4 separate regions of the Homo sapiens genome follow, and all the other regions are linked to region 4. The links come from fine-mapping of genetic effects on gene expression. A gene starts in region 4. Each other region holds a variant in brackets. All regions are shown on one strand. Distances are between the middles of the regions.

The links. PIP is the estimated chance that this variant, and not a neighbour inherited with it, causes the effect. A credible set is the group of variants that fine-mapping cannot tell apart.
Region 1: its variant is the best candidate, but not a certain one, in a credible set for the expression of SMAD3 in nasal epithelium (TOPMed, PIP 0.83).
Region 2: its variant is the best candidate, but not a certain one, in a credible set for the expression of SMAD3 in thyroid (GTEx, PIP 0.73).
Region 3: its variant is the best candidate, but not a certain one, in a credible set for the expression of SMAD3 in lung (TOPMed, PIP 0.59).

The regions. Positions count from the first base shown.
Region 1 is chr15:67,098,793-67,104,027 of GRCh38, reverse strand. All of the region lies in intron 1 of SMAD3 (SMAD family member 3), which reads right to left. Among named protein-coding and RNA genes, the nearest start is that of SMAD3, 36 kb to the right of the region's middle. RefSeq lists an enhancer at 2,913-3,062. The variant G/A (reference allele first, on the strand shown) is at 1,982.
Region 2 is chr15:67,125,649-67,130,648 of GRCh38, reverse strand. The region is part of intron 1 of SMAD3 (SMAD family member 3); the gene reads right to left. Among named protein-coding and RNA genes, the nearest start is that of SMAD3-AS1, 19 kb to the left of the region's middle. The variant T/C (reference allele first, on the strand shown) is at 2,307.
Region 3 is chr15:67,181,787-67,186,786 of GRCh38, reverse strand. It overlaps SMAD3 (SMAD family member 3), which reads right to left. Exons shown (of 9, transcript NM_005902.4): 7 at 1,923-2,060. Among named protein-coding and RNA genes, the nearest start is that of SMAD3-AS1, 37 kb to the right of the region's middle. The variant C/A (reference allele first, on the strand shown) is at 2,173.
Region 4 is chr15:67,062,757-67,067,756 of GRCh38, reverse strand. SMAD3 (SMAD family member 3) reads right to left here and starts at 2,155. Exons shown (of 9, transcript NM_005902.4): 1 at 1,397-2,155. The coding sequence starts at 1,602. It overlaps SMAD3-DT (SMAD3 divergent transcript), which reads left to right and starts at 3,575. Exons shown (of 6, transcript NR_135686.1): 1 at 3,575-4,641. RefSeq lists silencers at 939-1,028, 1,049-1,108, 1,359-1,408, 1,559-1,718, 1,889-2,378 and enhancers at 829-1,597, 3,137-3,907.

The DNA of each region.
Region 1 (5,235 bases), 36 kb before region 4:
CTCGGCTACGCACCCCTTTCCTTCCTCCAGGCTTCCTGTCTCCCTTCTGTACAGTCACCACCAACTACCCTTGAACGTCAACACCTCTGGAAAAGGTGAAATAATTCTGCCACCTTCAATACGGCAAATAGCCTCTCTAATCAATCCAAGTAAGTGTTTATGGCAATCCAGCAACGAGTTTGGCACAAAGAAAGAGGTCCAGGGTGGTCACTCACGGTAATGTCAAAGCCGAAACGGTGGATCCAGAAGCACTGACAGTTGGAGGAAACCCTCCTCATTGTTGCAGCTCTGTTCCAGCTCCTTGTTGTGCTATGTGCTTAGGAAAACCGCACAGGGGTGGGGAGTCCACACACAGGCCCACACCCCACACACATTCAGCTCCACAACCAGCAGTCACAGCTGGAAAGGGTAGCTGGGCTGAGGAAACTGCAGCCCAGGGAGGGTGAGTGGGACTCAGGGATCCTGGACTCCAGGTCAGTAGCACACACCAGCACAGCGCCTACCCCAGAAGCCCTGGGCCAGACCCACCCAGCCTTAATGTCAGGGCACAGTTAGCCTGGACACAAAACCATGAATAACTCATGTTTGCATCGTGTTCTGCTGTTTTCCAAACTCTTTCTCATCCCTCACTCTCTCCTGATCATCATGCAGTCTTCAATACAGTCAAGGTGGGTCCTGCTATCCCCTTGTCGAGTGATGTGAAGTGAGTCCCAAGGAGGCCATGTGCCTTGTGTGAAACCACACGGAACAGGTTCAAGTGTGTAGCTTTTGCACGACCTTGACTACACTACCTTGACTATAACTCTTCCACTGGGGTGATGGGAGGCAGGGGCAAGGAGTTAAGAAAAACAACAAAAAGAACAGTACAGCTCCATACAAAGGAAGTTGACAATCAAATTTGGGCAGATGAATGACACACAGACAAGCTGCCTTCACAGAAAAGAGCCAAATTAATGCATTCAAAAATGTGTACTGAGCACGTACTACATACCAGAGCTGGGAAGTGAGGCAACAGACCATTCATAGACAGTTAAGACTAAGGAGATGGGACCTGTTTTGGGTTTGAAAGAAGAAAGGTACAGAGGAGTCTAGGAGAGCATCCCAGGAAACGTAATGGGGAGCTAAAACATGGCAGCAGTTGTGGACAAAGCACATTGAAGAGGAGCTATGATGAGCCTCACCTGGGAGGAGCAGAGGGGCTGCACAGAGGTAAATCCAGAAAGCGGTCACTTCCAAAGAACTTTAAATACCAAGCTAAGGGACCACGTATCATGCCTACAGAAACATGGTATATCCAGATCTTCCCAGTCCATTCAACGTCACTCCCTGCAACTGACCAGCCAGGACCACCAAGAGGTTCAGAATTCTACCTGTTTAACAGAATTCCCCATCATACATTGGATGGTCTTGCTCCCATCTCACCCAGGACAAGTCTATACACACAGGTCATCCCAGTATGGCCCTGAATTAGCACCTTGGACATACAATTCCCACAGATGAGGACAGATATGAACACTCACAAATCCACTCCACTGCTCAAAAGAATGTGGTGGAAGGCACACTTTCTAAAGGGCTGCATTTCACACATTTTAAGTGGTTTTCACACATTTCTGAGCAAGTGCATGACTGCTGTATGTGTATGAACATAACAAGTTTCAAAAGGGAAAAAACAGTGGTTAAATCTGACTCATCCTACTCTCCTGGCTTTTTTCTTTCTCTCAACACAAACTCATGCACGCGAGCATGCACACACACACCGCACACACACACACACACACACTTTCACAGCATTTCCCCCAAGACTGATCTGAATAACATGGTGGGCCTCGAGGCAGGAAGGATTCACTGGGTCAATTATCCTCATTCTGAACAAGCTCGCCTTCCAGGTGACCCATGAAAACACAATTTAACCATGAACTTCCGGAAGGCAGGACCTGGTTCTACTCACACAGCCTTAAACAGATCAGGTGCCTCATAATCC[G/A]ATTTGATGGAAGAAATAAATATCAGCGCATTCCAAGCCCTGCTTCCCACAGCTAAGGCTCTCCTAAAGACAAAGGCAAATTCAGCTGTGTCAAGTACAACTCCCAACACAAACTAGTTTGCATTCATTCTTGTTTCTTTCAGTGGCACCCATCCTTGGGTTTCATTTCAGTAAGAGTCTCAACAGCTAACAAAGCACTTTAACGTCCATCATCTCATGCAGATGCTTACACCAACTCCATAAGATAGGAGAGGCCAGAAATATCATTCACATTCAAAGATGAGGACTCTGAATGTGAACAACCTTTAGGTCACTTTCCTAAGGTCATGTAGCTAATCAATCTCGATCTTGTCATTCCTTGCCTACGGATCTCACCTCAGTTACTGAGAGTATAACTGAACTTCCAAGATCCTCAAACCTTATTCAGCTTCTCCTAGGGATTACACAGATATTTAATTCAATTACAGCTCAGCCTGTTCCAGTGGCATCATCATCACTGTCATCATCATTGCTATACTGGCACCGACCAGGACAGGATACAAGAGCTCGACCTCAGAGAGCAGGCAGGCCTACCCAGTACATGCCAGAGGGTGGGAGAGTCAGGGGGCTTGCTAAATTTGAAACCTTTTTCTGACATCCAAGTATTTAAACAGCTCATTGACTCCCATACGTAAATATTACTATAAGCTACAGTTTCATTTACCCTGTGCTGGGGCCAACAGGGTTTGAAAGTAGAGTAAGCATAAATTAGGTACTGGAAAGTTTCTTATTTCCTGTAGTGTCAGGTGTTCATAGTCAAAAAGAGAAGAAAAGAAGAAGCAGTGTCACATGGCAAGTCTCCCAACAAACACCAAACGTATGTATTTGCACACAATTAGTCCCTTTCGCTAACTGCCCAAAGCGAGTAGCACAACAGGAATTGTTCTAGACACATCCACAAGGACACAACCCAGGACTTGGGATATTTCTATTTCTACTACAAAGCCCCAGAGCCTCCTGAGCCTCACCTCAGGGTGAGACAGACAGTTTCCTGAGCACCCATGGAAAGCACAAAATGCCAGGTGGAATAGAGCTGATCCTCAGTGACCCAGAACATACCCAAAGACATAAAGGAGCCAAAACCCCCTTTTCCACTGTGACTTCCCCAATAGAAAGTGAGGAGGCTAGAAGCCAAAGCTCAACTCTGGTACGCTGCTCTGTGCCCTTGAGCAAGTCACTAGCACTCTCTGGGTCTCTGGTTCCTCATAAAGGTAGAGCCTGGATTGGAAAGTCCCATTCTTTCTTCTGCCTCAGTGTACACGTAAATGTCCCATTCCTTTCTTTCCTACCCAATACAAACCTATCAGAAACTAAGTCAGTGACATGGACACCATTAGAGGAATACATTTGATTTTAATATATATTAAAATCAATTTATATGTTTATCACAATATATTGATATATTTATCACAATATATCACAGTATATCACAATATATTAATATTGTAATTAATACATTTATTAATACATTAATATATTAATACATGCAGCAAAAATCTACCATGTTAGCCATTTTAATGTGTATAATTTGGTGGCATTGAGTTCATTCACAATATTGTACAACCACCGCAACTATTTTGTTCCAGAACATCCCTCAAGGAAACCCTGTATCCATGAAGCAGTCACTCCCCATTCCCCTCTCCTCCATCCCTGGCAACTACTAATCTGCTTTCTGTCTCTGTGAATTTGCCTATGGGGATACTGCATGGGAATGGAATCATGTGATATGTGGCTTTTGATGTCTGAATTCTTCAACTCAGCACAATGTTTTCAAGATTCACCCATGTTGTGGCACATACTTCATTCCTTTTTTTTTTTTTTTTTTTTAGATGGAGTTTCGCTCTTGTTGCCCAGGCTGGAGTGCAAGGGTGCGATCTCGGCTCACTGCAACCTCTGCCTCCTGGGTTCAAGCAATTCTCCTGCCTCAGCCTCCCAAGTAGCTGGGATTACAGGCATGTGGCACCATGCCCGGCTAATTTTGTATTTTTAGTAGAGATGGGGTTTCACCATGTTGGTCAGGATGGTCTTGAACTCCTGACCTCAAATGACCCACCCACCTTGGTCTCCCAAAGTGCTGGGATTACAGGCGCAAGCCACTGCGCCCGGCCACGTACTTCATTTCTTGGCTCAAAAAATATTCCATTGTAGAGTGGAATATGCTTTTGAATTAATTGCTAAGTAAATCATTCACAGACTGTAGTACTATTATTAGCAACAATTAAATAAGATAATCTATGTAAGGTATGGGGCACGTGGTGTGCAATCAGTTAGCATTCACTTTTCATCATCAACAAAAATTCCTCATAGCACACCTCGCTGGTGGTGGTGTCATCACACCTTACTTGGGAATCAATAGGCTGGAGGTGTCATCCAGATCCCATCTTCTGAGTACATGAATCAAAACATTTCTGCACAAGTATTACATATTCCCCCAGTTCTCCAATGTATGCGGACCTCTGGCGAGTAAACCTTCCTTATGCAGTAACCATTATAAGCTAGCAAAACACTGGAACCCTTCTTCAAGTAATCTTGCCACATGAAATTTACCAAAACAGAAAATCCTTGGGGAGGTGGTGTAATTCTCCATTTTTCAAAATGACTTACAACAGGATTCCTTTAAATGGTTTTCCCAGTAGTCTTAAAACACAATTCAATTTGCATAATCAACATTTCAACAACACACCTTCTCTATAAAATACTATGCAGCTGTCTGAGCTGGGCTCCAACTTTGGAGGACAGTGATGCTTACAAGACATGAGGAATTGATGTCTGCTTTTCCCCATAATCAGCATGCTGAATCCAGAGACAGAAGTCCTTAGTCCTTATCCCACTTTCCAGCCCTGTGACTGTGAACAAGAGCGGCTACTTCTTCTCATGTCAGTGTATTCCCAGGAATGCAGAAGTCACAGCCACTTTCTCTAAGGCTGACACATGAATCAACAGGGCGGCAACCACAGAAAGGAGAATTATCATGGGTACTCACAGAGTTGATCCTCGCTCAGGACATACGCTCTGTCCACAGTTTGGGGCAAAAGTCCACATTTGTGAAGCATTTCAGAACACTGTCCCATCTCCATGGGCTGCCTGACCCTCCTCCACACTGGCCCCCTCAGGAACGGAGTCCACCCTCCCATCCATGTATGCCCTCCCACCGTCCCCAAATCCCCCAGCTGAGCAACAGTGGGCCCTCAGACCCCCGCTGGGGATGCGTAGGA
Region 2 (5,000 bases), 63 kb before region 4:
TTCTCTGTGTAGGGCAGTGGTCCCCAATCTTTTTGGCACCAGAGATGAGGGTTGGGGGGGATGTTTCAGGACGAAACTGTTCCACCTCAGATCATCAGGCATTAGATTCTGATATGGAGTGTGCAACCTAGATCCCTCCAATATGCAGTTCACAATAGGGTTCACGCTCCTATGAGAATCTAATGCAGCCGCTTATCTGACAGGAGGCGGAGCTCTGGCCGTAATGCTCACTTGCCCACCACTCACCTACTACTACGAGACCCGGTTCCTAACAGGCCGCACACGGGTATCAGTCCACGGCCCCGGGGTTGGGGACCCCTGGTGTAAGAGAAGGAGGTCAGGTGAGTGGAAGGCACCTAGTACCGGAGTCAGCAGGCCCTATTCCAAATTCTAACTCTACCTGGGACTACGTGGCCTTGGGTAAGTTGCTGGGCCTCTCTGAGTTTCTGTTGCCTCATCTGTAAAATGCACATGATATTCATCCACCATGCAAGGCTGCTGTGAGAACTAAATGGAATGACAAAGGTAGAGTATCTAGCACAGCACTTGGGACATAGTAGACATTCAGCAAATGCAAGTTTCCCTTCTTCCTTAATGGGAAGAAGACCAAGCTCTGGTCCCACCCGGCTCCTCACTAGCTGTGTAACTCAGCCAGTGAGCTCAATGACTCCACTCCAAAATGCAGGTGACATCAACTGACCTAACGAAGAAATCCTGTAGCTGTGGTGTCCAATATGGTGGCCACCAGCCACATGGCAGCACTTGAAATGTGGACAGTGCAAACTGAGATGTGCCACAAGTATAAAGGACACATCAACTTCAGACTCAGTATGATAAAGAAGAATGTAATATAGCTCGTTAACAATCTTTATATTTGAGTATATGCTAAAGTGATGATGGTTTGGGATACACTGTATTAAACAAGATATAGTATTTAAAATTAATTTCACCCTCTCTTTACATTTTAACATGGCCAGAAGATTTTAGATTTTAGAAGTAATTGCAATTATCCGAGGGGAATACGTTCCAAGACCACCAGTGGATGCCTGAAACCAGAGACAGTACCAAACTCTATAGACACTGTGTTTTTTCCTGTGCATGTACACCCAAGACAAAGTTTAATTTATAAATTAGGCACAGTAAGAGATTAACAACAATAACTAATAATGAAATTAACAATTATAACAATATACTATCATAAAAGTTATATAAATGTGGTCTCTTTCTCTCAACACATCTGACTGTACTATATTCACCTATTTCCAGACTGTAGCTGACTGAAACCTCATAAGGCAAAACCAAGAACAAGTGGGGGCTACCATACACTGTAGCTCACACTACAGTGATATCCGGCAACACTGCTCTAGAAGGCTAAACAAACCTGAGTTACTGCTTGGCTATTATTCTTTCCCCAAGTAGACTGAAATTCCTTCTTGAGAGAGGAGTCCTGTTAGTTCCTGCTTTATGTTTCCCATAGTGAGGTGCTAAGTGCACATCACTTCCCAGGGGTCCCAGGGGTTGGGGACGCCTGGTGTAGAGGTAGGGGGACAGGAGTGTGGAAGGCATCTAGGATTGGAGTCAGCAGGCTTTATTCCAAATTCCAACTCTACCTGGGACTATGTGGCCTCGGGTAAGTGGCTGGGCCTGAGTTTCTGTTGCCGCATCTGTAAAACGCAAATGACATCCATCCACCACGCACTCAACACTCTGTGCTCAAGGTGCACATCGCCTTTAAGACACAGTGCTAATGGTGCACACCAAAATACTTTTAGAAGGCTGAGCGTGGTGGCTCAGGCCTGTAATCCTGGCACTTTTGGAGGCAGAGGTGGGAGGATCGCTTGAGGCCAGGAGTTCCAGACCAGGCTTGGCAAAATGGCGAGGTTCACTCTACTAAAAAATATATTTAAAAACTAGCTGGGTGTGGTGGCGTGCACCTGCAGTCCCAGCTACTTAGGAGTCTGAGGTGGGACGATCTCTTGAGCCCAGAGGTTTGAGGCTGCAGTGAGCTATGATCATACCACTGCACTCCAGCCTGGGCGACAAAGCAAGACCCCAGCTCTTTGAAAAACAAACTCTTAGAAATCTTAAGTTGGCCTTGAAAAAAAAAATCTTATGAATAAAATCTTAAGGTTTTCGAAATTATAAGTCACTATACACCAGGAACTATGTTCCTGGGTTTTACACACACCAGCTCTTTTAATCCTTCAAGAACCCCATGTTTTACAGATAAGGAAGCTGAGGCAAAAAGGTTGAGGGACTCGGCCAAGGTTACTAAGTGGTCAGGAGTAAAAGCAGGGATCTGAACC[T/C]AGCTGTTCTTACTCCAAGTCCAGGCTGTTCTCCACTGACCATGAAGCCAAGCAGACAGCCCGCTCTCCCTGTTTGCAGTATGACAGCCTCTAAATCTTACACATCTTAGAAAAACTCCAGCCCCAGAGATGCTCTACTTCCCATCCCCACCCCCAACAAAGGATTTCCCAGCAAGTCAGAAATGACAAACCACAAAACGGAGTCCGTGCATAACCATATCCACGTCTGGCCAAGGCTTGGTTAGCTCAGAGTTAGTCACATTTTAAAAGGGGTGAGTGATAGGGAAGGTGGATTCTATTTTGTTGCCTATGAACTTCCTGGCCAAGGGTGCAGGCTGCAAGTTGGAAAGGGAGAACTGGTGGATATCTGAGGGCCTGATAAGATATTTTTTCAGAGGAACACATTAGCAAGGCTGAAAATTTATTCCCAAGTTTCAGAAGCTCAGCTCCCCCCAGCTTCATTGATAGTCTCCCTACCACTTTCAGCCTAAGCTGTCCTCTGGCCTCTAGCCATCCACTCTAGCCTTGGACATGAACGCACTTTGGGGAGAAAGGCCCTGAGCCCGACACAGAATAGACTGACCATAAGCGTGTACAGTAGGATGAGGGGTGGGGTGAATAAATGGATGTACAAACCAACCAATCAATTTCAAAAAGTCTGAAGGTGCAGCAGACACAGCCCTTCATCTTCAGGAACTCCAGAGACGGGCACAGAAGACACGGAACATGTAAGGTCAATATAAGAGTTGCATATGACTAATTGCCAGGTGAGTATTAATATGCACAAGGGTGAAGGAGAGAGGATGAGCAAACCTCTTCCCCTTTGCCTACATCCTGTATGGATTCACAGGTAGAGGGCCGTCTGCAGGGTGCGGCTCAGAGGAGGGAAAGGGCAGGATGGGCCAGTCATCTGGGAATGCTTCCTGGAGGAGGTGCCTGAGGAGGAACAGGACTCAGATGGGACTGGAGGACGTTCTGATGGCTAGCTGTGTCAAGCCTGTCACTTAACCTGTCAGCCTCTTGGTTTCCTTTTTTACAGGGGGAGGCACTGCAGAAACAGAGGGAGGAGACAGAAAAACAAAACACCTGGTAGACAGTTCACATTCGACCTCAGACAGGGTAAATATTTACTTATCCATTCATGAGCCTGGCCCTGGGGAGCGACCTCGGCTTGGGCCACCTGGGTTTATGCCGGTGTCTGGGCTTGATTTGAGGCTCGAGGTGGCCGGTATTTAGCCCACGGCACAGAGTCCAGCCCTATACCTTGTCTGTCTGAGAGCTAAATGGATCCCATTTGATGGCAGTGGAAAAACTGACCACCACGATGACCCTACTGCTCACGCCAAAACATACCAGGCAGTGGCCGTAAGAGCTGCCCTCTAATGAGTGCCCACCTCGTCCTGGAATATTCAAGAGTGTGCCTGTGTGGGTGGTGACTATCTTCTCCTCACCAGGAGGTCGTAGGGAGACACACTGCCCCCCACTCCACAATTCAGTGAGGCCCCACCATTCACACCATGTTACACCAAAGGGATGCTTGAACCAGACCTGCCAGACTCTACTGTCGGAGCTCTCCCAGCTAACCACAGAGCTGAGGAAGAGACATACTCATCCGACAAACATTTACCAAGGGCCTACTGTGTGCCAACCACCGTCCAGGGCCCTGGAACATGGTGTGGACAAGACAGGAAAGGGCTCTGTCCTTGGGGAGCTGGCATTTATGGGGTGAAGATGGGCCTTAAACGCAGAATAGAAAATCAAAACCATCTCAGTGGGTGGTACAGGTTTAATGTCTGAGGGGGAAGTTGGAGCAGGGTCAGCCCCTGGGCCACCTGAACATGAAGATCTGTAACAATCACTGCAAAGCATGTTTAAAATACCTATTTCCAGACTGTACCCCAAGAGTTCCATTAGAAATCTAGGGAGAGGCCAAGAAACAGACAGCTGTGGTAACGGGCTAGGAGACTGGCAGCAGGAGGTCCCGGACCCCTGGAAGTCTAGAGTCTGGGCACAGTGCCCCAGCATGGCCCCACCACTCAGGAGGCAATTGTGAGCAATCACAACTCATGCCTCAATCTCCTCATCTGTAAACAGAGCATCCTAACACCTGGCCTGACACCTCGCAAGATGGTGCCAAGACGCAAAGAAGGCTATGGAGGTAAACTGTAAAGGGCTGAACGAAGGTGAGCTGTGCACATTCTCAAACACGACTGCTGGTAAGATGAACCCAGAAAAGAAAAGAAAAAAACTACGCAATTCCCTAAGGACTCAGGGAGTGTGTGTCGAGCATACAGTTTCTGCTTCTCAGTGACAAATACCCCACACCTAACCCACCCTGCCAAATAAGATAACTCTTACTCAAACGTGGTTGCTCAACACAGGCCCGAGTGTGGGTTTCCATGCAGTTGTCCCATCCTGTGGGAATGTCGCATCCTGTGGGAACCCAGCGTGTGGGGTTCCTGGTGAAGCGAGCGGCGGCAATAAATTACCCCAGTGCCGCGGCTCTTGCCCACATGTTGCTCTTATGGTCAGTGCGCTTCAGCCCAGCAGTGACCTAACCCCAGCACCAGTGAACTCAGCAGCAGGCTCCTCTGTCATCCTCCTCCAGCAAGCACAAGCTCATATTTCAGGCCGTTTGCTCCCCTGGGCATGACTCAGAGGAGTCAGTTGTCTTAAAAAAATGCTTTTCATATT
Region 3 (5,000 bases), 120 kb before region 4:
GGGGCTAGGAGGTAAGGAGAGATCTGGGCCAAATTTTGGCCTCTGGGCACTGGGCTGGGTGGAGGTGACATTCACAGCTAAGTGAAGGTGTGCATCTGATTCTCCAGACAGTAAAACTAAAGACAGTCACAAATAAAGTTTAAAATAAATGTCGTTTGAAGTCTTACTGCCTGAGTGCCAGGAATGTGTCAACCAGAAAAATAAAGACAAAAGCACATGCTGGAAATAGCCAAAAGGTGAGCCGGGGTGACGCTTATGAATGAGCCAACAGCAGGCTCCTGTTCTTGCTGTGTGACTCTGAGCTGGTCGCTTTCTCTTGGGGACCCTGTGTCTCTGTATAATGAAGGGCTGGCCTCAGAGGTCCTTCCAGCTCTGACATTCTATGAGCTGACAAACAACACCACAGCCAACTCAGCCCTCACCCAAAAGATGGGGGTGGGGCCGGGGAATGGAAGAGGCAGAAGGCCAAGAGCGTCACTGAGCTTCCTCTTCTTCATTCTCTCCAAGGACAAGGGTGGTGGAACAGGGCTGAACCTGGGCCCTGACCCCCAGCAGAGCCAAGAAGCAGAAGAGCACCAAACTTGAGAGTCCATCAGCCCTAGGCCCCATCCCGGCTTGGCCACTTACTAGCTGTGTGCGCTTGGGCAGGTGGCTGAAACTCTCTGAACTTGTCTCTCAAAGCGTCTCCTTACTTATAGAGCCAGAGAATAACTGGTGAGGACTAAATGAGGTCAACGATCGGAATGTACTCTATAAATGCAACCACAAAATGCTCTGGAAACCTGGTGTGCTATTATCATTTCAGACTTTCTGCATTCTAAAGTTTCCCCTGCCTGTGGTCTACCACTTCTCCACTACCATCTGCTACTCAGTGGGCAGGAAGGGGCATGCCACACACGTGCCACAGGCAATGGCCTGGCCAGGTTACCTGCTCCACTAGTCTGTCACAGGCCATGTTCTGTGGGCTGCCTACACAGTGGCTGCACGTCCTGTGAAAAGTGGACTTTGGCTGGGGCTTTCTGCCTTGGTTTCCTGAGGAAAGAGGCCTTAGATGGGATCAGCCACCTGCCTGATCTTGCTGTCCAGGCGTGGCCCTGTCCAAACCACTCTCGGGGGTGCAGCCTGACACCTCTTCTTGGGGTACAGGTGGGATTTTTCAGGCTCACTCAGAAAACCCTCAGCAGTTCCCTAGAGTCAAACTCTCTGGTGTCCTTCCACGGCCTCATGCTGTTGTGCTTTTGAAACATTTCCCCTGACGGTCTCATACATGACCCTCCTCCAGCCAGAGAGCTACCCATCCATGTCCTGCCCTCCATTACCTCAGGCCCTTTGCCTGGGCTGCTCCCCCTGTCTAGAATGCCCTCCCTGTGCCTAGTGCCTACCTATCCTTCAGGATCCGGATGTTTCTCCTCCATGAAGACTTCCCTGATCCATCCCAACAGCTAAATGGGCCTTCTCTCTACCTGGGCTGCTGGCTTGGTGCTTGGCACCCGTCCCTTATATTGAACTCATCCGTGTCTTTGTCTTCTGTGCTCTGCAGGCCTGTAAGGTCTGCGGGGGCAGAGCAGGGCCGCATCTACCTCTTCATCCCCTACAGCACCTGGCACAGAGCCCTGCATGCTGTTTGTGCAATGAATGAGTGAAGAAAGGAAGCCATACTGCCTGAGCATCTACGCACAGGGCAACAGGCAGGTACCCACAGGTTAAAGGCAGACCTATCAGATGCTACATCTGCTCCCTGGAAGTTCAGGGAAAGCACAGTTAGATCTGTGGGCATAGAGAAAACCTAATCCAATCACCTCCAGATTGACAACGCAATCATGAGTGAGCAGAAAAGGTGAGAAAGGTGGACTCTCTCCAGCATCCTAGGCATGCACTCGGAGAGGGACCTCAAGGCAGGGGTGCCTGTGCGGCTCGTTTACCTGGTGGGATCTTGCAGACGGTGGCCGGGTGCCAGCCATAGCGCTGGTTACAGTTGGGAGACTGGACAAAAATAGCGCTGTCACTGAGGCACTCTGCGAAGACCTCCCCTCCGATGTAGTAGAGCCGCACGCCTCTTCCTACAGAGATTCAGGTTAGACTGGACAGGGTGCCTTTGCTCACACACAATGGCCCTGGGGCCACCTGAGGCTCGCAAAGGAGGCAGAACAGCAGAGCTGCTCCCAGTGACTG[C/A]CAGCTTCCCCAGGCAAACGGGCCCCAAAGCCCAAGCCTAAAGTAGGGGAAATGGGCACTGCCGGATTCCTAAAGCCAAGGGAGGCAGATGACAAGAGATGGGCACACAGGATAGGTCTCAGTGACAGCCTTTGCCACTGAGTAGGCATGGGCCTCAGTCAAGTTATTCACCCTCTGAGTCTTCGTTTGTCTCTACGATAGGGATGGGGGCCAGGCGCGGTGGCTCACACCAATAATCCCAGAGCTTTAGGAGGGCAAGGTGGGAGGATCACTTGAGGCCAGGAGTTCAAGGCCAGCCTGGGCAATGTAATGAGACTTCATCTCTACAAAAACATTTTTTTTTTAATTAACTGGGCATAGTGGCATATCCTTGTAGTCCTAGCTGCTTGGGAGGCTGAGGTGAGTGGATTGCTTGAGCCCAGGGGTTCAAGACTGCCGTGAGCTCCCATCACACCACTGCACTCCAGCCTGGGAGACAGAGTGAGACCCTAACTCCAAAAAAAAAAAAAAAAAGGGAATGATGATAACCTCTACCCTTGCAGGATTACTGTGAGACACACAGTAAGTGCCTGGTGTCAGCTTTTCTTGCTGCTACTGCTACTACTACCCCACTATTATTTGGTCTCTTCACACTCCAAGATTCAGAGATTCATTCAGTAAACCTGCAGGGCTCCTTCTGATGCAGCAGACACCCCAAGGAGCCCTTTATTGCAGGGATGGTTTAACGCTATGCCCTTATTTTTTTCTTCCCTCAATGCATTTTTCTAAAACATTCCAGAGGTTTATATCATTTACTTTTCTTTCATCTCTTAAATCCACTCCAGATGGACAGAAATTATTTTTAAATTGGCTCTGCAACTCAAACAGTTGCGTAAACTCTGACAATGAGCTCTTTGCTCGGCCAGGGGATGGTCCCTTCTCCTGCATGGCAAAGTCTCTGCTCCATTCCTGGGGAAGAAGCTCAGAGGTCAGAACACGGAGCCAGATATTACAGGCCCAGCATCCGGTAGGATGAACACGAGGTGACCGACCCATGCATCACTGGATGTCCCCTGTCCTGCCTCCTATTCCCACTACTGTCCCCTTCCTCCAACCACTCCCCATTTTTTCTGGCTTTAGTTCTGCAGGGTGCTGGTGGCTCAGAGTCCACAGGAGGGATGACTTCCTGGCTGTCCACAACTGTATCATGTCAGTAAGAGCAGAAGGCAGAGGTGGGGATGCGAAGACCCAGACCAAAAATGTTTGTTTCGTTTCAGTAACTTAAAAAAATAGGCCGGGCATGGTGGCTCACACCTGTAATCCCAGTACCTTGGGAGGCTGAGGCGGGCAGATCACCTGAGGTCAGGAGTTCGAGACTAGCCTGGCCAACGTGGTGAATCCCCATATCTACTAAAAATACAAAAAATTAGCCAGGTGTGGTGGCACATGCCTGTAATCCCAGCTACTCAGGAGGCTGAAGCAGGAGAATCACTTGAACCTGGGAGGTGGAGGTTGCAGTGAGCCAAGATTGTGCCATCGCACTCCAGCCTGGGAGACAAGAGCGAGACTTGGTCTCCCCGCTCCAAAAAAAAAAAAAAAAAAAATATATATATATATATATATATATATATATATTTTTTTTTTTTTTTAATAAAATATAGAAAAAAGCCAGTTGCAGTGGTATATGCCTATTGTCCCAGCTAATCAGGAGGCTGAGATGGGAGGATAGCTTGAGCCCAAGAGTTTGCGACTGGGCCTGGGCAACATAGCAAGACCCTATCTCTAAATCAATCAATCAATCAAACAGTGGTATGCCACCCAGAATAAGTATCTTTTTTGAAGTAAAAAACAAAAAGCGAAATGGGAACAACAGGTCTGGTAGTGGTGGCTGTCTGTCACTGACAATGAGGTCTCTGCAGAGCCGTTCCCTACCCTCCCCAACCCCCTAGACATCAGGTCCCTTTCCTAGAAAATGAGAGCACAGACCTAGGCCCATGGCCTCCAAACTTTTCTTCTCTTCACTACAGAATCAATCCTCTCTTCAAATGAAGTCTTCTGTGAGAGCCCGAGATATAAAGCAAGCGAGTGCAGAGGTGCCCTGGTTCACGTGGGACCAGGCTTCCCTTTGCTAACCTGCCCACCTCCTGAGTTTGCCGCAGGAACCCTTTGCCAACCCTTGGGGCTCCAGGACAAGGTCTGAGAAAACCTCACTCTGCCATCTCTCTACAGCCCTTCTAAGTTCTGACAGTTGTGATTCTGGATCGTAAAATCCTCTAAGCTTGATAACTTCATAAGCAAACCAAGTGATGCGTAACACAGCTTCATCTTCCTTAAACTCACAAAGTCATCTTTTACTTATGTTCTGGGGGCTAGAAGGCAGAAGGTTCACAGTAGTGGTGTTTGGATAGTGGACAATTCTTTTCTACCTTTTCTAAATTGTTTAGAATAATGATACATGAAAATAAGAGAAGATCACTCTTCCAACAATGACTGCCTACTTATCAACCTATCCATCTGTACTTTCAGAGTATTTTTATTTAGAGGATTTCAGCCAGGCACGGTGGCTCACGCCTGTAATCCCAGCACTTTGGGAGGCCAAGGCAGGTGGATCACCTGAGGTCAGGAGTTCGAGACCAGCCTGGCCAACATGGAGAAACCCCGTCTCTACTAAAAACACAAAAATTAGCTGGGCGTGGTGGTTGGGTGCCTGTAATCCCAGCTACTTGGGAAGCTGAGGCAGGAGAATCGCTTGAACCCAGGAGGCAGAGGTTGCAGTGAGGCAAGATTGTGCCATTGCACTCCAGCCTGGATAAAGCAAGACTCTGTCTCCAAAAAAAAAAAAAAAATAG
Region 4 (5,000 bases):
CACCGCCTTCCCTCCCCCTTTATTGACTGGATCCACCCAGTTAAAAAAAATTTAAGTCCGCACTCCCACCATATGTGGCATTTATTTCCAGGGGAGGCCTGCCCTCGGTTCCCGTGGACAGATGTTGCTTTGTGCCTGCCTGACTCGCCTGGCAGCCCCTGTACAACTGCCCCAAGCAGGTGGCCAAGGATGGAGTCCACCCTGGCCCAGGAGCAGGGATGACAATCCCTTTGCGGCTGACAGTCCCTGGTGCTTTCTACTCATTCCTCGGCAGCCTGGGACCCCCAAAAGAGCCAGCCCCCAACACACACGCTCTCTCCCTTGGTTCAGCATCAAAGGAGGCTGAGAGGTAGAGACAGGAAGCCAAGGTACCCGCACCCCCAGTTCCCAGCCAGGCACATCTAAGCTAAGGAAGGCCCTGGGGGAGTGAAGTCACTGACCCCTTCTATCAGCCATCTGTGGGCTCCCGCCCGACCTAGCTAGCGCGCAACGGGAAGGATAAAGGAGATCCAGACAGATGGCAGCGCGCTTTGGGAAGGAAGGCTCTACAGGAATGCGAGGGCCGATGCGAGGCCCACTTTGGGGTGTGTTTTGTTATCTGCCCGGCTGCAGCCTGCCCCTCTCCCTCGTTCTGCACGGTTTCAAAATCTCTTGGACCAAAAGAAGGGCAAAAGAGTCGGGATGGGGGGGTGGGAGGTGGGAGAAGACCCTATTTTCCGCCACTTGTCTCTCCCATTTGGAAGTCAGAGCATTGCACTGCAACCAAAGTGCGTGCATGCTCAGGGGGCGGGAGACTGGCACAACCGAGTCTAAAAATACTCGATAAAAATGCTAATCCCGAAGGCAAAGAAAGAACGAAGAAGGAATCTGTCAATCACTAGGCTCCCGCTCCTCACCCACAGCCCCAGCTGTACGGACCGCATTCCTGTAGAGGAAAGTGGGGAGACCCGACTGAAGAAAAGAAACGCAAAGACACCACCACCTCCACGAGCGCGGGCCGCGGGGGCGGGAGGCGGCGGCGGAGGAGGGGCTCCGGCCCGCGGAGCCGAACAAAGCGGGCCTCAACTTCCAGCCCCAGCTCCCCGGAGTGGGGGCGGCCGAGTCCCGCAGCAACCCGCTCTCCCCTCCCGGAGGTGGAAAGGGAATGTGAGGTGTGGAAGCCAGAGTGCCGCGTGGAAGCCTCGGGCTCTGATCTTTGCAAATCAGAGATGGTTTTGTTTGGGGTCCCCCCACCCCCTTCCTGCCCGCGCTCTCCCACTCTCACACACACGCACCCACACAGTCTCACTCCCTCCCTCTCTCTCCCTCTTCCCATCTCCAGCCCCACTGGGTCGGCCCCGCAGTGCCAGGGGGCTGGGCCGGCGTGACCCCGGGTCCCCCCCGGGCGGGCCCCCACCTGGGGATGGTGATGCACTTGGTGTTGACGTTCTGCGTGGTGATGGCCTTCTCCAGCTCGTCCAGCTGCCCCGTCTTCTTGAGTTTCTTGACCAGGCTCTTGACCGCCTTCTCGCACCATTTCTCCTCCTGCCCGTTCTGCTCGCCCTTCTTCCAGCCCAGCAGGCGCTTCACGATCGGGGGAGTGAAAGGCAGGATGGACGACATGGCTGGGGAGGGCGCGCGGGCGGCGAGGAGCGCCCCCGGCGGGGCTGGGCTCGACGGGACGCCGGGGGCGCAGAGGGGAGCTCGGCCGGGGCCTGCCGCGGTCGCCCAAACTTCGCCTCAACTCTCGGCGAAGTTGCCGGGGCGCCGGGCCGGGCCGCGGCGCTGCAGCCTGCGGGGCTCGGCGCGCGGCCCTGCGCCCGGAGCGGCTCCCACGGCGAAGAGAAGAGCGGCCGGGCGGGCGGACGGCAGCAGTGCAGGGTCGGGAAGGCCCCGAACGCGGGGCGGAGGCGGCGGCCGCGAGACTCCAAGTGGCAGCAGAAGTTTGGGTTTCCGCACGGGGTAGCTGTTTGGGTGCCGCCTCCGGGAAGGAAAGTCCAACCCCCGGCCAAACTTCGCTCGCCTCGCTAGCTTTGATGCGCAGATCCCTCCGCCTCTGCGGCCTCACCGCCCCGCCACCCTCCTCCTCCCGGCTCGCCGCTCGCTCGCTCGCTGGCTGGGCCGGCCCGGGGCGTGCGCCGCGCTCCCGCTCCCGCCCGCTCCCAGTCTGTGTTTCATGCAAATCCGCGTGCAGCCTCCTTTCCAAGTGCTGTCACCGCCCCCTCGCCGCCGGGGCTCCCCGCCTCCTCCCCCGCGCCCCGCCACCTCCTCCCGCGGGCGCCCTGCCCGCCCCCTGCTCCGGGGAGGGCGCCCGGCCGGCCACCACCCCGCGCCCAGCACGCCCACGTGGGCGACCCGGGCGGCGGCAGTCCTGGCTGGAGCGCGCGGGACCCTGCGCGGCCCCGACCTGAAGTCGGGCGGGCGCGGGGAGGAAGTCCTGGGAAACACGGCGAGAGGGGCCTCGGGCGGGAGGGCTGAGCGCGGCCCGTGGCGTCCGCTCTCGGAGTCCACACTCGGGCGGCTCGGTTGGAGTTGCGGGCCGGAGAGGGTTGGACTCGCAGCAAGTAAGCGTCGTCCGGACGCGAGTGCACCCTGGAGAGGACCCGAGCCCGAGAGGGGGCGCGCGGAAGGCCCGGGCCCAGGAAGTTGGGGCCCGCACTTGGCCTCGCGCTTGCTGATCCCCGTCAAGGCCCTTGGCCGGCGCCGGCGCCCCTGGGCTGTTTTTATTCTCTAGTCGGTGAGATCACACCGGCCGAGAGCCTCGGGAACGTGTGCGGAGGAGGAGGGGGTGAGAAGTGGGTCCTCAGAAGTGGAGAGCTGGGGACACCAGTGACAACCTGGACAATGGCTGGAGCCAGGGGTCTCTTGAGCCTTGTGAACCGAGTGCCCGGCAGAAAATGAGCCTCAAGGACATCTGTTGAGTTCTTGAAGGAATGAATGGAGGGGCTTTCGAATTTATCTTTGAAAGAAATTTACATAACAGGGTGTTTGTTGCTGGATCTCCTGATAGAGAAGGATCGGAAATTTGATAATTGCCAATAAATGGAAGAGAGTTTTGTTTCCAAAGCAATGAACTCACAAAAAAGTGGGGCAAGACAGGAGTTTTCGGAGAGTTTGTGTATTCAAAAAAAGCAAAACAACAACAAACCAATTGGCACATTGGGGAGCTCCGCGGCTTTTCTCCCCACCAAAAGAATTCAGGGGCGTCTGCCCGCAGGGCCCTCGGCGGTTTTCAGGAGCTACTCCAGGCCCCTCGGCCTTTCTCTTGCTGCCTCCCGCAGCCGACTAGCCGGTGTCTAAGCCCTTTGTTTGTTTTTAACAGCAGGAATCTCCCACCCCCACCCCTGCTTTGTTAAAAAAAAAAAGTTATCTGGAACCCTCAAGTGGGTGGGGAGTTACAAAGCCCTGTGAGGTGTGGCGGAATCCACAGTCAGCCCAGAAGCGGCAGGGGCCCTTGCCTTGCTCCGGAGAACCGCCTCCCACAAGCCAATCCGCAGCTGCTGCTGCAGAAGTGCGCTGTGCTCCTCACCCTCCTCTCTTCCTAAATACCCGCCTGAAAAGGAGAATACGTGAAAGCCAACTGAGGCTTGACAACCTGGCTTCCGTTCCTTGCTGGTCCTCCTGTTAACGCGCTGCCGCTGTGGTCTTAGGTTTCACTCTCCTCTTCCCGTCCGTCAAGAGAGACAAGGATGACACAATCCACATTTATTGATTGCTTTCTTCATTCCGGGTAGTCCGCCTGCTGCCCTTTGATTCAGTCTTAACAGTGGTTGGTGAGGTAGATGTTCCTGTGCCTCACGTTTACGGAGGCACAGAGAGATTACATTACTTACTCAGGGTTCCAAGTGGCAGAGCTGGAATTTGAACCCAATACTTTGTTGAAGCCTCAGTCTCCGATCTTGAGACTGCACCCAGCTGCCTGGGTCACGGAAGGCAAAGATGACATCATTGATCGAGCTCTTTGCAAAACAGTTCTCTACACGGGCACACTGTTGTAACACTGCAAGGATTATTTGCTCACCTGTAAAATGGGGCTAGAGGTAGCTTCCCTCGCGATCTCCTAGGGTGGCTGTGGGAAGCTCATGTGAAAAGGTTTGCATTGCTAATGCCATGAAAAGTGGTGGAGGGAGGTCAAATAAGTTTAACACACATTGACGGAGCAGCTCTGAGTTGCAGCCCTCCTATTCAGTTCCTGAACTTCCAAAATAAAAGACTAAGGTTTTCAAGGCGTTCACAGCCTAGAGAAGCATCAAAGGGTGGGGATGAGGATGATGTGACTGAGTGGGCAAAGATGGGCAGGGGCCTTGCAGTCATCATCGTCCAGTAAAGTGTTAATCTTAACCTGAACAAGTCCAACCATTGAGAGGTAGCCAAAGAAAGTAAGAGGGGCTCAGGATCCATCAGTGACTGGCCTGGCTTCCAATCCCGGCTCTTTCTCTTCTTCCCCTTGGGCAGCGTCCGTTCTCTCCGCTGTAAGAATGGAGCAAGCGGTTCTCACTGTGCAGAGTGGTGGATCCAGAAAGAGCATTGTAACTGTCCTCCTGTAGTTCAAGTCCTTTATGTTACAGAGAGAGCAATGTCTGCTGAAGGAGAGTGATTTGCACTGTAGAGGAAGAGCGTCAGAGAGATTTGAGGATTACATGTAGTAGAAGGACCTGACAGGTACTTCACCCTGTAAAATCATGGTATGGGAAGGGGCCCTCATTCAGCCCTCTCATTTTCCTGAGGGGAGGAAATAACTAGGCAGCCAGCTAGTTAGTGTGGCAGAACCATGCTTCCCTGCTGGCATCCGTGTGACAAGAACAGCTGTGCATGCAGAAAAATAGTGCTGGACCCACCTACAAGTCTAATAAGTGCCATTTCTGGGCTAGTTCTTTCTCCTCAGGCCTGTTTCTCCAAGAGAAGTCCCTCCACTGGGGGACTAAGTCCAGTTTCAGAAAGCTCTGAGGAGGGCTGAGGAACTGATTCTTCCAGTGCTGAGAAGACCCTGCATGTTCTCTTGATCTTGACTTTGGGCAGTG